Regions from separate parts of the Homo sapiens genome. Here region 2 is linked to region 1. Evidence: fine-mapped expression QTL. A gene starts in region 1. The other region holds a variant in brackets. All regions are shown on one strand. Distances are between the middles of the regions.

Region 1 (2,878 bases):
GCACAGCTGCCCTCCCATTGATCAAAAAGACAGGAAACTACATTTATTTAAAAAGTTAATGTTCCTAATATATTCAAATCTCACTAAGCCCCAAAACGGTCTGAGATCAAATCCTCCATAAATGAGGAAATTCTCTAGACTTCTAAGTGGGTGCCCAAAGAGTTCACTCAAGTGTCCAGGTATGAATTACGATTCACCAGAGTAACCGGCCTTGCACTTAGGGAAAACTTCCATCGCCCAAGACCAGCGTGGGTCGATCCCATCAACAGTCACACAATCTCATCTCATGCTCCACTAATGAATGTTCTGCCTAGAGTCAGAGCAATGCCTTAGCTGGAGTTTTGTTTTGTTTTTTTCAATATTAACACGTGGGGGTCACAGAAAGGAACAGAGGTTAGAAGAGCTCTCACGTGGCGGCTGAAAGAGTGGGGAACCGAGAAAGTGAATGAGTAACAGGGAGGGTCCTGGACTCTCAGCATCTCCCAACTCGGGGTCAGGGGGAGGCTGTAACTGGAATGCCCCCCACCCCCACCCCCGCCTCTTTCTCACCTCCTGGTCCCGACCCCAGGCCAGTGCCACCGCCGGGAGCCCCGGGTCTCGGCTCCAGCCCCGGGCTGAACAAGCAGGGAGGGGAGGCACTTAGGCCTCGCCTCCCCGCGGCCTTCCTCCCCCAGCCGGGGCGGAGGAGACCCAGGAAGCCGCGCCCGGCTCCGAGGGGTGGAGGGCCTAGGCCGCGCCTCCCAGCCCCGCGGCCCTAGGCCTCGGCCCGCCCGAGGCGGAGCCCGGGAGGTCGGGGCGGGGTCCCGGGCCGGTCACCCACCTGGGTTGCCAGTCATTCCAGCTCCGCGGATACTTGGTGCCGCCGCCGCCGCCGCCGCTGCTCAGCCGAGACCCCGGGGCTCTGCGGCTCATTACCTTCCCCGACACGACATGGCCAAGCGCCGCCGCCCAAAGAAGCGCGAGTCGCCGCCCGAACCGGCCGCCGCCGACACCCCGCTCCGGCCCGGGGCTGAGGAGGAAGCCGAGAAGGAGGAGGAGGAGGAGGAGGAGGAGAAGGAGGAGGCGGCGGAGGGCGGGGGAAGAGGACGGCCGTTCCGGGTTCCGCCTGAGCCCGCAGCGCAGGACGAGGAGGCGGGAGCGGCGCGGTGAGAGAGAGGCGGATGAAGGGGAGGCGACGTCTTTTCCAGGGCCGTGCGCGGCCCACGTCGCCGGGGCCCCGGAGGACGAGGACGACGAGGAGCAGGCGGTGGCGGCAGCTCCTCACGCTCACACGGCCACTGCTTCCCCGCCTCCCGGCTCCGCCCGCCGCGCCGCCGCTGTCGCACGGCATGCTGGGAGCGAGGGGCGGGGTTGGCGCCCGCCGGGCCTGGGGAGAGAGGCGGGTCCTGTCGGCGGGGCGGAGCCGAGAGAGGCGGGGTCGATAGCAGGCCGCCCCGCCCCCCACGTCCCCAGGCCCTTGGGCGGCGAAGAGGTCTGGGCGTAGCGGTGACGAATCCTAAGACAGGGGATCTCCACTACTGCGGCCACACACTTTTCTCCCAAACGCTTCCCGGAAAGCACCGGAGGGCCGGGCAGTCAGGTGTAAACAGGCGTCCAATCAAGGACCTGCGGTGTGGGTGGGGGCTGGTGCCCTGCGGTGCGCGCGCACACAGGCGTGCCCTTGGATTCACGTGCGCCAGTTTTCCCACTTTCTACGGGGTGGGGTGGAAAGTGAAAATAGTAAGATCGAGAGGTGGATATCCACCTTCCCAACCTCCACCTGAAATGTGCCCATCGAGTCCTGGCACCTTTTACCATTTCTTCACAATGAAAAAAACTAAACGATGGAAGGGAAGGGAGTACCCACGATCACCAAACCCTGTCCTCTGCAATGTGAAATGTGCTTTGAAGTCCTTTCACCCTGAGGCTTGCCCGCCTTCTGCTGGTGAAAGAAGCTGGGGGCTAGGCGCGGTGGATCACGCCTGTAATCCCAGCACTTTCGGAGGCCGAGGTGGGCGGATCGTCTGAGGTGAGGAGTTCCCGACCAGCCTAGCCAACATGGAGAAACCCCGCCTCTACTAAAAATACAAAAATTAGCCGGGCATGGTGGAGGGCGCCTGTAATCCCAGCTACTTGGGAGGCTGAGGCAGGGGAATCGCTTGAACCCAGCAGGCCGAGGTTGCAGTGAGCCGAGATCAGACCATTGCAGTCCAGCCTGGACAACAAGAGTGAAACTCTGTCTCAAAAAAATAAAAGAGAGAGAGAAAGGAGGGAGGGAAGAAAAAGGAAGGAAGGAAGGGAGGAAGGAAGGAAAGGAAAGGAAAGGAAAGGAAAAAAGAAAAGAAAGAGAGAAGGCCGGGCGTGGTGGATCACGTCTGTAATCCCAGCACTTTGGGAGGCCGAGGCGGGCGGATCACGAGGTCAGGAGATCGAGACCATCCTGGCTAACACGGTGAAACCCCGTCTCTACTAAAAATACAAAAAATTAGCCGGGCGTGGTGGCGGGTGCCTGTAGTCCCAGCTACTCCTGAGGCTGAGGCAGGAGAATGGCGTGAACCCGGGAAGCGGAGCTCACAGTGAGCAGAGATGGCTCCACTGCACTCCAGCGTGGGCGACAGAGCAAGACTCTGTCTCAAAAAGAAAAAAAAAACAAAGCAGCAGCTGGGTAGAGGAGACGTACCCGACCGTCTACCCCATGACGTGTCCCATGCCCCAGGGAAAAAAGTTCCCTAAAGCATCTGATGCATAACGTGAATGCACACACGTTTTTTAAAAGTTGGGCCAGGATGCTCCTTAAACGAGTGTCTAAACCGTATCTGCATAAGGAGTCATAACCTATCATTTTATGTTGCAAAGAAAACGTCTTTATATATCGCTTGTGCAAATAAATATTGTTACC
Region 2 (2,902 bases), 23 kb after region 1:
TTAAGTGTGATTGAAGCCTGAGCATTAGAATTTCTCAAAGCTGCCAAAGAAATCCTAGTGTGAGGTAAAGTTTGAGATACACTGCCTTAGACTAGAGCAGTCACTCTCAAACTTTTGTGTACACAAAGTTACCTGGAGAGTTTGTTACAAAAAAACCCAAAAACCCACAAAGCAAAACAAACAAACAAAAAAACCACACAGATCGCTGGGATCCACCCTCCTGAGTTTCCGACTCATCAGGTCTGGGTAGGGCTTGAGAATCTGGCTTAGGCTATAATGCAGTGGTGCCATTATAGCTCACTGTAGCCTTGAACTCCTGGGTTCCAGTGATCCTCCTGCCTCAGCCTCCCAAAGTAGCTGAGACCACGGGCACATGCCACCATGCTAAGTTTTTATTTTTATATTTTTATTTTTTAGAAACCAGGTTTTGCTGTGTTGCCCGGGCTGGTCTCCAACTCTTGGCTTCAAGCGATCCTCCTGCCTCCCAAACTGCTGGGATTACAGGCATGAGCCAATTTTTTTTTTTTTTTTTTAGTAGAGACAGGATTTTACCTTGTTGGCAAGGGTGGTCTCACCCACCCAAGAATTTGTATTTTTAACAAAGTGTGGCTGGGCGCGGTGGCTCACGCCTGTAATCCTACCACTTTGGGAGGCCGAGGCAGGTGGATCACCTCCCCTGAGGTCGGGAGTTCGCGACCAGCCTGAGCAACATGGAGAAACCCCGTCTCTACTAAAACTACAAAATTAGCCAGACGTGGTGGTGCATGCCTGTAATCCCAGCTACTCAGGAGGCTGAGGCAGGAGAATCGCTTGAACCCGGGAGGGGGAGGTTGTGGTGAGCCGAGATCATGCCATTGCACTCCAGCCTGGGCAACAAGATCGCAACTCCGTCCCAAAAAAAAAGAAGTGTGGCTGAATCTGCCAGTTCTGGTGATCACACTTTCAGAAATACTTCCTTGGGCAGGTAAAATTATGTAATGCAGTGTTCAAAATGGGAGAACAATTATTATTATTATTATTATTATTTTGGCAGGGAGGACAGGTTCTCACTCTGTTGCCCAGGTTGAGAGTATTATAGTTCACTGCAACCTGGAACTCCTAGGCTCAAGGGATCCTCCTCCCACCTCAGCCTGCTGAGTATCTGGGACTACAGTTGCACACAACCTCACCCTGCTCTTTTGTTTTTCTCATTCCTTCTTTCTTTCTTCCTTTTTTTTTTTTTTTTTGTGACAGGGTCTTTCTCTGTCACCTAGGCTGGAGTGCAGTGGCGTGATCTCGGCTCACGCAACCTCTGCCTCCCAGATTCAAGCGATTCTCCTGCCTCCACCTCCCGAGTAGCTGGGACCACAGGTGTACATCACCATGCCCGGATAATTTTTTT[G/T]TGTGTATTTTTAGTAGAGACAGGATTTCACCTTGTTGGCAAGGCTGGTCTCAAATTCCTGAACTCAGGTGATTTGCCCACCTTGGTTTCCCAAAGTACTGGGATTACAGGCATGAACCACCACACCCAGTTTTGCCCTGCTAATTTAAAAAATGTTTTTGTAGAGATGGGGCCTCACTATGTTGCTCAGGCTGGTCTTGAACACATAGGCCTCAAGCAATCCTTCCACCTCAGCCTCCCAAAGTGTTGGGATTACAGGCATGAGCACACAGTGCCTAGCCTATTATTATTATTTTTATTGAGCAGACTCCTGAACCAGAATAGGTTCAGAGAGACTTTTTAATTTTTTTAACTGTATGATATCTCTCAGTTATGGCAGTGTAACTTGTGTCACTGAATTTCCAAAGTATACCTTTTTTTTTTAACTGTGCTTCAAATAAATAGAAAAATAGTTATAGGCTGGGTGCAGTGGCTCATACCTGTAATCCCAACACTTTGGGAGACTGAGGCAGGAGGGTCACTTGGGGCCAGGAGTTCAAGACCAACCTGGGCAACATAGCAATAACCCATCTCCAAAAAAAAAAACCAAACAAACAAACAAACAAAAAAACAAACACTAGCCAGGTGGGATGGTGTGTGCCTATAGTCCCAGCTACTGGAGAGGCTGAGACAGGAGGATCACTTGAGCCCAGGGGGTTGAGGCTGCAATGAGCCATGATCACACCACTGCACTCCAGCCTGGGTAACAGAATGAGACCCTGTCTTGTGGCTGGGTGCAGTGGCTCACGCTTGTAATCTCAGCACTTTGGGAGGCCGAGGCAGGTGGATTACAAGGTCAAGAGATCGAGACCATCCTGGCCAACATGGTGAAACCTTCTCTCTACTAAAAAAATACAAAAAATTAGCTGAGTGTGGTGGTGCGTGCCTTGTAGTCCTAGCTACTCGGGAAGCTGATGCAGCAGAATCGCCTGGACCCAGGAGGCAGAGATTACATTGAGCTGAGATTGCACCACTGCATTCCAGCCTGGCGACAGAGCGAGACTCTGTCTCAAAAATAAATAAGTAAATAAAATACAAATAAAAAAATAAAAAAAGAGACCTTGTCTCAAAAAAAGAAAAAGAGAAAGAAAAAGAAAAACTTAAAAAAGAAACACAATTATATAGATGAAAAAAAAGAACCACTTCCTGTGGGCTGATGAAGAGGTGAGGGACCTCATAGACAGCAGCTGTGTTACCAAAGGGAAGACCAAGGGGAGGCCACTGATCTTCACTTAAGAAAGTATAAATTGTCAGTGTCCAGACGCTGCATTGGCCATCCTTCTCTTGCCACCTGGGGAGAAGTGTCTACCAACTGTAGCCAGCCTGTGGTCCTCTATTTATGCCACAGGACTTGCCAGCTCTCCAATCTATCCACTCCACGTGGACAACTGCCTCCGCCATAGTTCAGGACAACTGCCACCTCTCTAGAGCAGAGGGTGATGGGGCTTGTCCTCAGAGGGTGGTGCTGATGGGAGGGTAAAC

Evidence for each region. PIP is the estimated chance that this variant, and not a neighbour inherited with it, causes the effect.
Region 2: its variant is the best candidate, but not a certain one, in a credible set for the expression of SMG1 in whole blood (INTERVAL, PIP 0.78).

The regions. Positions count from the first base shown.
Region 1 is chr16:18,925,130-18,928,007 of GRCh38, forward strand. It overlaps SMG1 (SMG1 nonsense mediated mRNA decay associated PI3K related kinase), which reads right to left and starts at 1,279. Exons shown (of 63, transcript NM_015092.5): 1 at 821-1,279. The coding sequence starts at 912. SMG1-DT (SMG1 divergent transcript) reads left to right here and starts at 1,058. Exons shown (of 2, transcript XR_001752094.2): 1 at 1,058-1,145. RefSeq lists silencers at 501-1,090, 1,121-1,460 and enhancers at 1,146-1,758, 1,759-2,372.
Region 2 is chr16:18,948,351-18,951,252 of GRCh38, forward strand. No RefSeq gene overlaps it. Among named protein-coding and RNA genes, the nearest start is that of SMG1, 23 kb to the left of the region's middle. The variant G/T (reference allele first, on the strand shown) is at 1,382.